3 linked regions of the Homo sapiens genome follow. The protein of the gene in region 1 interacts with the protein of each later gene in a pairwise test. Each region holds a gene or a part of one and is shown in the gene's direction. Other genes may lie near its edges.

Region 1 (3,657 bases):
CTCTAACTTCCCAACCATGGCTGAAAGTTCCTGCAGCATCTGGAAGGGAAGCAGGCTGGGGCCTGGTGTTGGCTTCTGAAGGGGGTTGGGATATGGGAGCCTCCTCACTGCAGGAGCCTTGTGCCCATCTGCCCAGTTTGGTCCTAGGCTGCTCCGGATGTCTCACTCCCTTTATCTGTCAGCCTTTGTGAGGGATGGGGTGACAGGAAGTAGTGTGCCCATCTGCACTTTAATTCCCAGCTAGGTTAAGACAGGTCCTTATTTTAACTCACTACTCACCTGCTAAGGATCTTGAACAAAGTAGATCCTGCTGTGTATACAGAAGTCTACAACGATGAAAGTGCATGGCAAGCGTGGCCTTGGGGAAGTAGAGTGGGAAGGAAGTATTCCTCCTGTGCCTGGCCTGCTCCTGTGGCCGCAGCATCCCTGGGCGGGACACTCTTATCTGCTTCACTTGACCACCCCTTCTGCTTTTCCCATCTCTGTCCCCTGCCTGCTGTCAGGGACCCATTTGCTTTGCTCCTGCTTTGTCCTGCACCGTATATCCAGGTGTTGCCCTAAAGCCCTTTCCTGGACACCTAGAGGATGCCTTTTGGAAAAGCCTCAGACAGGTGAAGCCTGGGGTTACTGTAATCTCATCTGACCCAGTCCTTACCCTAAAAGATCAGCTCCAGCCCAGCTTCTCCCACAGGAGCCCAGATTCTCCCCAGCCTGGAGCCTAAAGCTTGTATCTGGGAATTTAAGTCTTCTTAATGTCTTGATTCCTGGCTCTGACTTTCTTCCCTGCTGCTACCCTCCTGAGGTGGCTCAGGCCAGAACCCTTGAAGGCAGGTCAGGGTCAGTGTATGAGCTTGGATTGGAGTAGGTGAAGGATGGAAGAGGCGCATTGGAAGGGCAAGGAAGAGGTACTGGCAGGACCACTGAGGATCGAGACTTAAGGTGATTGCTGTGCCTCAGGATTCATTTTGGCTATGGGGGAGGCAGTCTATTCCCTCACCTGCAGAATACCAGGGATCCATGAGCCCCTCACACCAAGGTTAGAGAAGGAAAGAGATGAGGAGCTGCATTTCTGAGAAGTAGTTAAAATCTAGATGCTCCCCTCACCTCCAAGCAGGGCAGCACTTCCTGGAACATGCCCTTTTTCATCCCCATCAGAGCAGGAAGGCGTGGGTGGCTGCTTGGCAGACGGGTGTGACTTCAGGGGCAGATACTCCTAGCCTGGATGAACAGGATGGGGCTGAATTTGGCCAAAGGAGGAAGAAGAGCTACTCACTGTCTGCCCCTGCCCATCCTGTCTACTCCTAACCTTAAGGCCACCTTGATTCCTGGGCTGGCTCCACATCTCCAGCCTCCAGCATCTCTTTCCAGAGTCCTATGCATGCCCATGTGTCAGAGGCTTTCTGCCTGAGCTGCAGCTTTGAGAGGGTTTGTGGGTGAAGAAAGTATGTGTGTAGGAATTGGCTTCTCTGACCCAAGTGCCAACTCGGGGCTTTGCTGGCCTGGGGTCAGGTCGTTTGAGGTTCCAGGCTATATTCTGTAAGAGTCGGGAAGACTTTTGCATAGGGGCTGTTACTGTGACTGCTCCCTCTCCTTGCCTGTCTGTCTCTTATCCCACTGCTCCTAACACTCCGTACTTTGTAGATCCTCCTGTAGCTATAAGGAGAGGGTGCATTGTGCTGGGAGGTAGAGAGATTTGGGGTGCTTATGGTAGCAACCAGAGGAACTTAGCTGAGCTTTATACATTTTTCTTAAATAATAATAAAAGCAAGCAATATTCATTACAAACAGCTCAGAAAACATTGCTTGCATACATGTGGAGTCTTCTTGTGGGCTTTTTCTTTCTATGAGTACATGTACATTACATACACCTACCTGTAGAAGTCAGATTTTCATGGAGCTGGCAGCTTGGAAGCAGGGTGGAGCTGGTGTTTTGGGGTGAAGATGAGCTCTGAGGCTGTGCTCTGAGAGGAGCTTTGAAAGCCCGCAAGGGAGGGGAGAAGAGGGGGATTTTTCCCCTCTCTGGAGCTGGTTTGGGAGGAAGCAGGAGGCGAAGCAGAGCAAGGCCAGACTGCAGGGAGCTGGAGCCTCAGTGGTATGTACCAGCCGTGTCCAAGAGTAACAGTCCCCAAGTTGCTCCAGGGCAGATGGGGCTCACTGGGGCTGCCTTCTCTCTGGGGGGTCTTAGGGTGGGAAGGGATTCACTTCCCTTCAGTGTTTGGAGAGGGCTGGCTCATCCTTTGGCTGCCTGGAAGCCCAGTAACTGTTGTTGAGATGGGGGGCAGTCTCTTCCCCATTGTTAGTCCCTACGGTGGGGCTTCCCTAAGGAGAGTCCCAGGTCTTGGCCAGACCAGAAGCTCAGGCAAGCGTATGCTCCAGCCCCAGTGAAATGAGTCCTTCCCCAGGATCCTGTGAGGCCTCCCACCCCATTCACACAGGGAGAGCTCCGACAGGAAAAGAGAGGTTCTTGCCTTATAGGGCCACCCAGCGCCCAGCCTCTCCTGGTCTCAAGCCCTAGCCCCACCCCCTCTGATAGCCTTGCTTATCTTTTTGGTTATTGTGGTAAAAAATGTGTAACATAAAATTTACCATCTTAACCCTTTTTTAAGTGTGCTGTTCAATAGTACTACGTATATTCACCTCATTGTACAACAGATCTCCAGAACTCCTCATCTTCCCCAGCTGAAGCTCTGTACCTATTAAACACTCACTCTTTTCCCTGCTCCCCCAGCGCCTTGCTTCCACCATTCTTCTTTCCGCCTCTATGAATTTGACTACTTAGGCTGGGCTCGGTGCCTCATACCTGTAGTCCCCACACTTTGGGAGGTCGAGGCGAGAGGATCCTTTGAGCCCAGGAGTTCGAGACCAGCCTGGGCAATATAGTGAAACCCCTGTCTCTACAAAAAATACAAAAATTAGCCAGGTGTGGTGGTGCATGCCTCTAGTCCCAACTACCCGAGAGACTGAGATGGGAGGATGGCTGGAGCCCGAAGCCATGATTGCACCACTGCACTCCAGCCTGGGCCACAGAGTGAGACCGTGTCTCAAGAAAAAAAAAAAAAAAAAAAAGAATTTGACTACTTTGGATACCTCAGATAAGTGTTTTTTATCTGAGTGTTTTATCATACAGTGTTTTTTATGACTAGAGTAATGTCCTCAAGGTTCATCCATGTTGTGGCATATGACAGGATTTCCTTCCTTTTTAAGGCTGAGAAATATTCCATGGTATATATGTACCACACTTTGCATATTTTGTTTATCCATTCATTCCTTGATGGACATTTGGGTTGCTTCCACCTCTTGGTTATTACATATAGTGCTACTATGAACATGGGCATATTAATATATCTTCAAGACCTTGCTTTCTATTCTTTTGGATAAATATCCAGAAGTGGGATTGCTGGATCATGTGGTAGTTTTATTTTTAATTTTTTGAGGAACCACCGTACTGTTTTTCATAGCAGCTGCACCATTTTATAGTCCCACCAAGAGTGCACAAGGGTTCCAATCTCCACATGCTTTTTTCTTTTCTTGAGACGGAGTCTTGCTCTGTCACCCAGGCTGGAGTGCAGTGGCACTGTCTCGGCTCACTGCAACCTCCAACTCCCAAGTTCAAGCAATTCTTCTGCCTCAGCCTCCCCAGTAGCTGGGATTACAGGT
Region 2 (2,820 bases), on another chromosome or scaffold:
AGACAGACCAGAGAACAGAGTGCCTTCCTCAAAGTGCACTTTAACACCAATTTTAAAAAAAAAAAAAAAAAAAAAAAAAAACAGGACATTCAAACCCACTTTATAACACATTTCATTATAACTCTCAACATTAGTATATTCTTCCTAAGTACCTACCCAAATCCTTCAACTGTCCCTTCATGTCCATGAATTGAAGTCCCCTTCAAAACCTTTCTAGACCCTAGGGACTGTGATTTACACCCTAGGAGAAATACACAACTTTCCCTATTGGAATTTGTTACATTATACTAGCAAGCAAATGCCGATTCTCTCTCCCTTTGCAATTAGCTAAGATGTAATTAGGTTGCCAAGCAGCCAACACGAAACAAGTACAGGCTGACCATACACTAGAACCATTTTAGAAGCTTTGGTTCAAAGCTACAGTAGAGTTGTGAGAAAGAATCTACTCTGATGCTTATCTGAGAGGAACGCAAGAGATTTGCTGCCCTCTTACAAAAAGTGCACAGAAGTTTCTAGACCAACCAAATTCCCAGATTTGAGGTTTTAGTACCAGAAAGACCTGAAGTGACCTCAAAGGACAATACTCTATGGATCTTTAGCTCTCAAGACTTGAAAAGAACTTTCCTCACAGTGTATCTCAGAAGACCCCAGTGGAAACACTAAATCAAAGCAACGTATTTCTTTGGACCTAATGGCCCCAAGAAGCTATTCTCAGGGGGGAGGAATCTGTCAAGTTTTTATACTTTTCATTCCTGCACCTGATGGGAGAACAACTCTGTATAGAGAACTCTCCCATCTGTATAGAAAGGTGCAGGAATCAAAGCTATCTTCAAATTTGCATCACCGCCTACACCACGGACAAGAAGAGGTAGATCAATTGGGGGTTGGAGGGAAGAACTGGAAACTCTCTTGGTTAGACTTTCTCGAAGATCTTTCCTGCCTGCCTCCTCATTCCCTGAATGCAACACAGACCTTGCATACATAAACTCATCTCCTGTTGTTTTACTGTATAACGAAGTTAGAAGTGAAGTGATGATGAAGACACAATAGTCTAATTCATTAGGACTTTTACTACTAGTACTACCATTAGGGAGACTGAGGGGAAAGTGAGTTTAAAGAGTAAACCATGGGAGAGACGACAGAGATGGAAAATATATACTTAGCACACTCTAGGGCTGAGTTGGTATTTTTGTACTTTCCAGATTAAACAAGCTTCATTGTTCACTCCTCTTGTTCTCTCTCTACACCTGTAACCCTTTTTAACTTTACAGATAAAACAAAAATGATCTACACAGCTGCCACAACTGAAGAAACAATTCCAGGAGCTCTGGGAAATGGCACCTACAAAGGGGAGGACTGCTCCCCTTGCACAGCCTAGCCCTTCCCCTGGTGGCCTGGATTCTGGTCCCAAAGCAATTCTGAAAGCCAGTGTGGTAAACTAGAGAGAGCAGCAAAAACACCAGTCTTGCCTGAGTCTTTCTCCAGCATTTCCAGTACATCTATCAGAATCATCAAGTCTTGGCCGGGAACACAGACAGGGTGTCTACCCAAGAAGCCTCACCTATCCCCAACTTAGAATTTGCTACTTATTTTAAAGACTTGTTCAGTGACTGTAAACTCTATGAAACCAGAAACCGAATCTGCCTCTTGCTGGGATCTCTAAAAGTGTCTGATAAGCATCTTAAAGTCACTCAATTCCTGAACTAATCAATATATATGTTTAACCCATTACTCAAATACCCAAATCCCATTCCAAGTTTTGTGACCCAAAAGAGAAATAAATGCTCACAAGTGCTGTAGAATTAAACTTCAGAAGTTCTAACCTAAAAAGTTCAGATCCTATTCCTTCCCTTTTGACATTATTGGGATGATGCTCCCGAAAAGTCAAATTTGACATCAAGTATGCAAAAGTGAACACAGTAAGATGCAATCAGGCAAAACAAACTCAAAAAATAGCTAATGAAATGAAAAAACTGGGCGAATGCATCATGTTAGTAGAGGAGGAAAACTTTTGACAAGGAAAAACCAGGAAACAAACACATACATTAACACAATGTTACCTCACTAATAATCTCTTTTTTAAGTTCAGTAGGTATTTGGTTTTAACACAAGGCGCCCCCAAAACTGGGTACAGCAAACTACTGCCAAAATGAGTCGTTTCCCAATTCAAAGAAAAATGTTCAAATACCTAGAATTCACAAATTTCAAATTGTCTCTAATAAAATTTAAACATTTTGCATATCATATGTAAATAAGGATCAAGTAAATGATTAACAACTAATATTAACAATTACAAAAAGTCAATCATGCTTATTAGTTACTTGGGATTTTTATCATTTTGTATGGTCAGGTACAAATGAAACCAAGACAATATAGTTTTCGGGTATCAGTTTGGCAAATGTGCAGGACTAACAAGTACTCCCAACACCAAAACGAGAAACACAGATTTGGGTTACTAACATCCTCTTAAAAACGCAGATTTTTGACAAGGCTACCACCTATCATTTTTACTTATTATATCCATATATACCTACCTGTTCAAATTGTTTTCTCTATTATCTAACCAACATCATCTGCTAGGAGACTTGGTTACATACAAGTTATGTAAGAACACATTTGTTTAGCTTTTGAGGAAGACAGGGTTGGCCTCAAACCATTCTTAGAAAGGAATAAAGATGGCCGGATGCAGTAGTTCACACCTGTAATCCCAGCACTTTGGGAGGCCGAGTCGGGCAGATCATGAGGTCAAGTGATTGAGACCATCCTGGCCAAAATGGTGAAACCCCATCTCTACTAAAAATACAAAAATTAGCCAGGCAT
Region 3 (3,657 bases), on another chromosome or scaffold:
CACTATTCTCAGCGTGGTGTCCTTCATCGTCATTCCACTGATTGTCATGATTGCCTGCTACTCCGTGGTGTTCTGTGCAGCCCGGAGGCAGCATGCTCTGCTGTACAATGTCAAGAGACACAGCTTGGAAGTGCGAGTCAAGGACTGTGTGGAGAATGAGGATGAAGAGGGAGCAGAGAAGAAGGAGGAGTTCCAGGATGAGAGTGAGTTTCGCCGCCAGCATGAAGGTGAGGTCAAGGCCAAGGAGGGCAGAATGGAAGCCAAGGACGGCAGCCTGAAGGCCAAGGAAGGAAGCACGGGGACCAGTGAGAGTAGTGTAGAGGCCAGGGGCAGCGAGGAGGTCAGAGAGAGCAGCACGGTGGCCAGCGACGGCAGCATGGAGGGTAAGGAAGGCAGCACCAAAGTTGAGGAGAACAGCATGAAGGCAGACAAGGGTCGCACAGAGGTCAACCAGTGCAGCATTGACTTGGGTGAAGATGACATGGAGTTTGGTGAAGACGACATCAATTTCAGTGAGGATGACGTCGAGGCAGTGAACATCCCGGAGAGCCTCCCACCCAGTCGTCGTAACAGCAACAGCAACCCTCCTCTGCCCAGGTGCTACCAGTGCAAAGCTGCTAAAGTGATCTTCATCATCATTTTCTCCTATGTGCTATCCCTGGGGCCCTACTGCTTTTTAGCAGTCCTGGCCGTGTGGGTGGATGTCGAAACCCAGGTACCCCAGTGGGTGATCACCATAATCATCTGGCTTTTCTTCCTGCAGTGCTGCATCCACCCCTATGTCTATGGCTACATGCACAAGACCATTAAGAAGGAAATCCAGGACATGCTGAAGAAGTTCTTCTGCAAGGAAAAGCCCCCGAAAGAAGATAGCCACCCAGACCTGCCCGGAACAGAGGGTGGGACTGAAGGCAAGATTGTCCCTTCCTACGATTCTGCTACTTTTCCTTGAAGTTAGTTCTAAGGCAAACCTTGAACTGTCCATAACACGAGAAACAAGAGGAGATTTCTTTTCAATGGACCCACAATTCATTAATGCCAAACCATACCATTTCAGGCAAAGGTGTTGCACACACATGCTCTTCACCACAAGGTAGATAAATATATAGAAGAGGCAGGAACTGGGGTCTTTCCGTAAAAGCATGGACTTGAGGATTCTGACTGAAATTTTCCCCCCAAAGATTATTAGGCTCTACATTTCTTAAAGCAACAAGGGCTATCCATTTTGGACTTGTAGTTGGTATTCTATCTTTTCCAGAGCTACAACATGCCAACTTTAGCTCTGAAGGAAAGGGAAGATGATGCTTGTGAACTTAAGGACTTTTCGGCCCTCGGGTCGGGAGCTCATGGGCCAGAGCTACAGCTTGTGTTCAACTGAAAGAAAGGCAATGGACCAAATCATTCATGGAGCCCAAGAAACAGAACCTAATGGACTGATCAACATATGAGCCAAATTCTGAACTGAACAGCCCCACAGTCGGGTGCAAAGACTGTTACACAAACTAAAACAAAGGGCCTCCTACAGTTAGAATCTCAAGAAGGTTTCTAGATCCCCTAAAGGGATCCAGAAAAGTAGAAGGACATGTATGAAATGGGAAGCTAGTCCAAGGGAAAAGATTGAGAAATAACACACATCTGGAGAGCTAAACAGTTGACTTTTTTTCCTATAAAATCTTGGGTTTATGCATGGGCTGGAACTGAGGTCATTAAGTGTAAATTGTCAATTGACACAAATATTTTCTGTCTCCTGTTTGAATAATAGTGGGGCAGAAATCATGCCACTATTTTACAACTTCCCTTATGTGACTGAATTGAGATGCTGGTGGGAATTCTTCAGATCTCTGCCAACACTTCTGTTTTCTTTTGGTTTGTTTTTGTCAAATAAGCCTTTTTTAGTCAAACAGTATTTACAGAAAAAAAGAAATTCAACTAGAAGTGGCCTAAGTCCTACAAAATTCATGATGTCACTGAGGAATAATTTGTTCATCAGAAATATATTTTGTGTCCATGAGATCATAGACAATAAATGTGATCTCCACATGGGGAGCAAGGAAGGCAGAATGAACATTTTTCTTCCTCCAGGCACACCCATGTGTCTTTTCCACCTGTGGCTCTCTTTAAAGCTTTTAAGCTCTCTGCAGATGTGAAAGAGAAATATCAGAGAGTCAGAAATGACAAAGAGGATGATTTCACAATACCTAGAAAACATGTAACCTATTCCAAACAGTCCTAAAATCAGAGCATTCAGATCAGACATATCCTAATTAATGCTGTTGAAATAAATCACGTTGGGAAAACTTTAACAATATCTAAATTATCCCTAGGGTCAATTCACAGGAACATTCCTCAAATCCCAAACCGCAAAATAACTTTGGGCAGGGATATACATATACATTTCTGAGGGCATGGGCCGTATGTATGTGACCAAGTAACATGGAACCAAAAAAACAGTCAAGCCAGTGTTTTTGATCCTCCTACAGAACAAGTTAAAGCAACTCCAGAGTCAACCAACTGTTCATGCAGAAATCCACTGTCAATATGGGTGGAGGGAGTGTTTGGTTGAAAATGGTTAATCAGGTAGTTGTATGATGTAAGATGACCATCTTCAGAGTTTAGCCTCATTCTTGTGTGATTGTCATGCCTTTATTAGAACTCAAGTTTCATTTAAATAAATGCCCAGCTCATTTATTTTTTTTTATCTCTTCCTCCTCACAGATTTCAACATGAACTTCTCAAGGGGTAAACAGCAATGTATTTGGACTGTGAATAACTCTGCATGGGAATTTGGGATTGCCATGTTCAGAATTTAGGAAAGTAGAGGGAATAGAACCAAATAATATAGAGCTGACCCATCCAATAAAAATACCATGATAACCTTATTAATTCCAACTCCATTAATTTGGAACTTGTAGTTATTCAGACAAGGCATGGGGGCTAAAGTTTACCCTTACACTATCATTTATTTTTCTACCAAAATGCATAAAGTGAATTAACAGTCATAAATTTGTTCTACCAATTTATTGCCAAACTCTTGAACTGACCTTTCCTTAAAGGATATCTGGGTGAAGAAATGGCCTATGTGATCAATCCTCCTACAGGGGAGGGGCAGTGCCTTCAGGTCTGTTCAAATTGTCAAAGGAGTTCAAGGTAGCTATAGCCTATCCTTTGAGTAGAAATGCTTACTTGGGTAGGAAACAGGATTTCAAACATAAATGTCTCCAAACATTGTGTTAAAACTGAACTTCTTGTTTTATTTTTAAAGCTCACCCCCTTCAAAGTGTATCAGAGAAAATTGTTTGCCAAAATCTCAAATCAAAATGGAACCAGAACCTGTACAAGTATGGTAAGTCCATTTAACAGCACACACAACATTCTCAAGGGCACTGAGATTCCCTTTCCTTTTTGAAGTTCCTCTTTTCCCTATTTTAGTCATTGTCCATTATTTTGGTAAATTGGATTCCTCAAAAGTGAAGACCTTTTGAAACTATGAGCCTGGAAAAGAGGACCTTTTAATTAAGAGCATTCTGCTTTGATGACATTTTCTTCTAAATGAACAATAAGGCCTATGGTTAGCTTGGAGATAGCAAGTACTCGAAATTTTTTGCTATTTTGAATAAAGCACTATCAACTTAATGAGGTTTTACTGCACATACTGTT

What was found.
Region 2: the proteins of SLC41A1 (region 1) and SLC10A1 interact in binary tests that used the Homo sapiens proteins (3 or more experiments, as listed by UniProt).
Region 3: the proteins of SLC41A1 (region 1) and GPR101 interact in binary tests that used the Homo sapiens proteins (3 or more experiments, as listed by UniProt).

The regions. Positions count from the first base shown.
Region 1 is NC_000001.11:205,803,042-205,806,698, reverse strand, and holds part of SLC41A1 (solute carrier family 41 member 1), read left to right. Parts: intron 1-3,657. UniProt on the Homo sapiens protein: Na(+)/Mg(2+) ion exchanger that acts as a predominant Mg(2+) efflux system at the plasma membrane.
Region 2 is NC_000014.9:69,774,840-69,777,659, reverse strand, and holds the end of SLC10A1 (hepatic sodium/bile acid cotransporter), read left to right. Parts: intron 1-1,271; coding exon 1,272-1,378; 3' UTR 1,379-2,244; downstream 2,245-2,820. UniProt on the Homo sapiens protein: As a major transporter of conjugated bile salts from plasma into the hepatocyte, it plays a key role in the enterohepatic circulation of bile salts necessary for the solubilization and absorption of dietary fat and fat-soluble vitamins.
Region 3 is NC_000023.11:137,027,443-137,031,099, reverse strand, and holds part of GPR101 (probable G-protein coupled receptor 101), read left to right. Parts: coding exon 1-952; 3' UTR 953-3,657. UniProt on the Homo sapiens protein: Orphan receptor.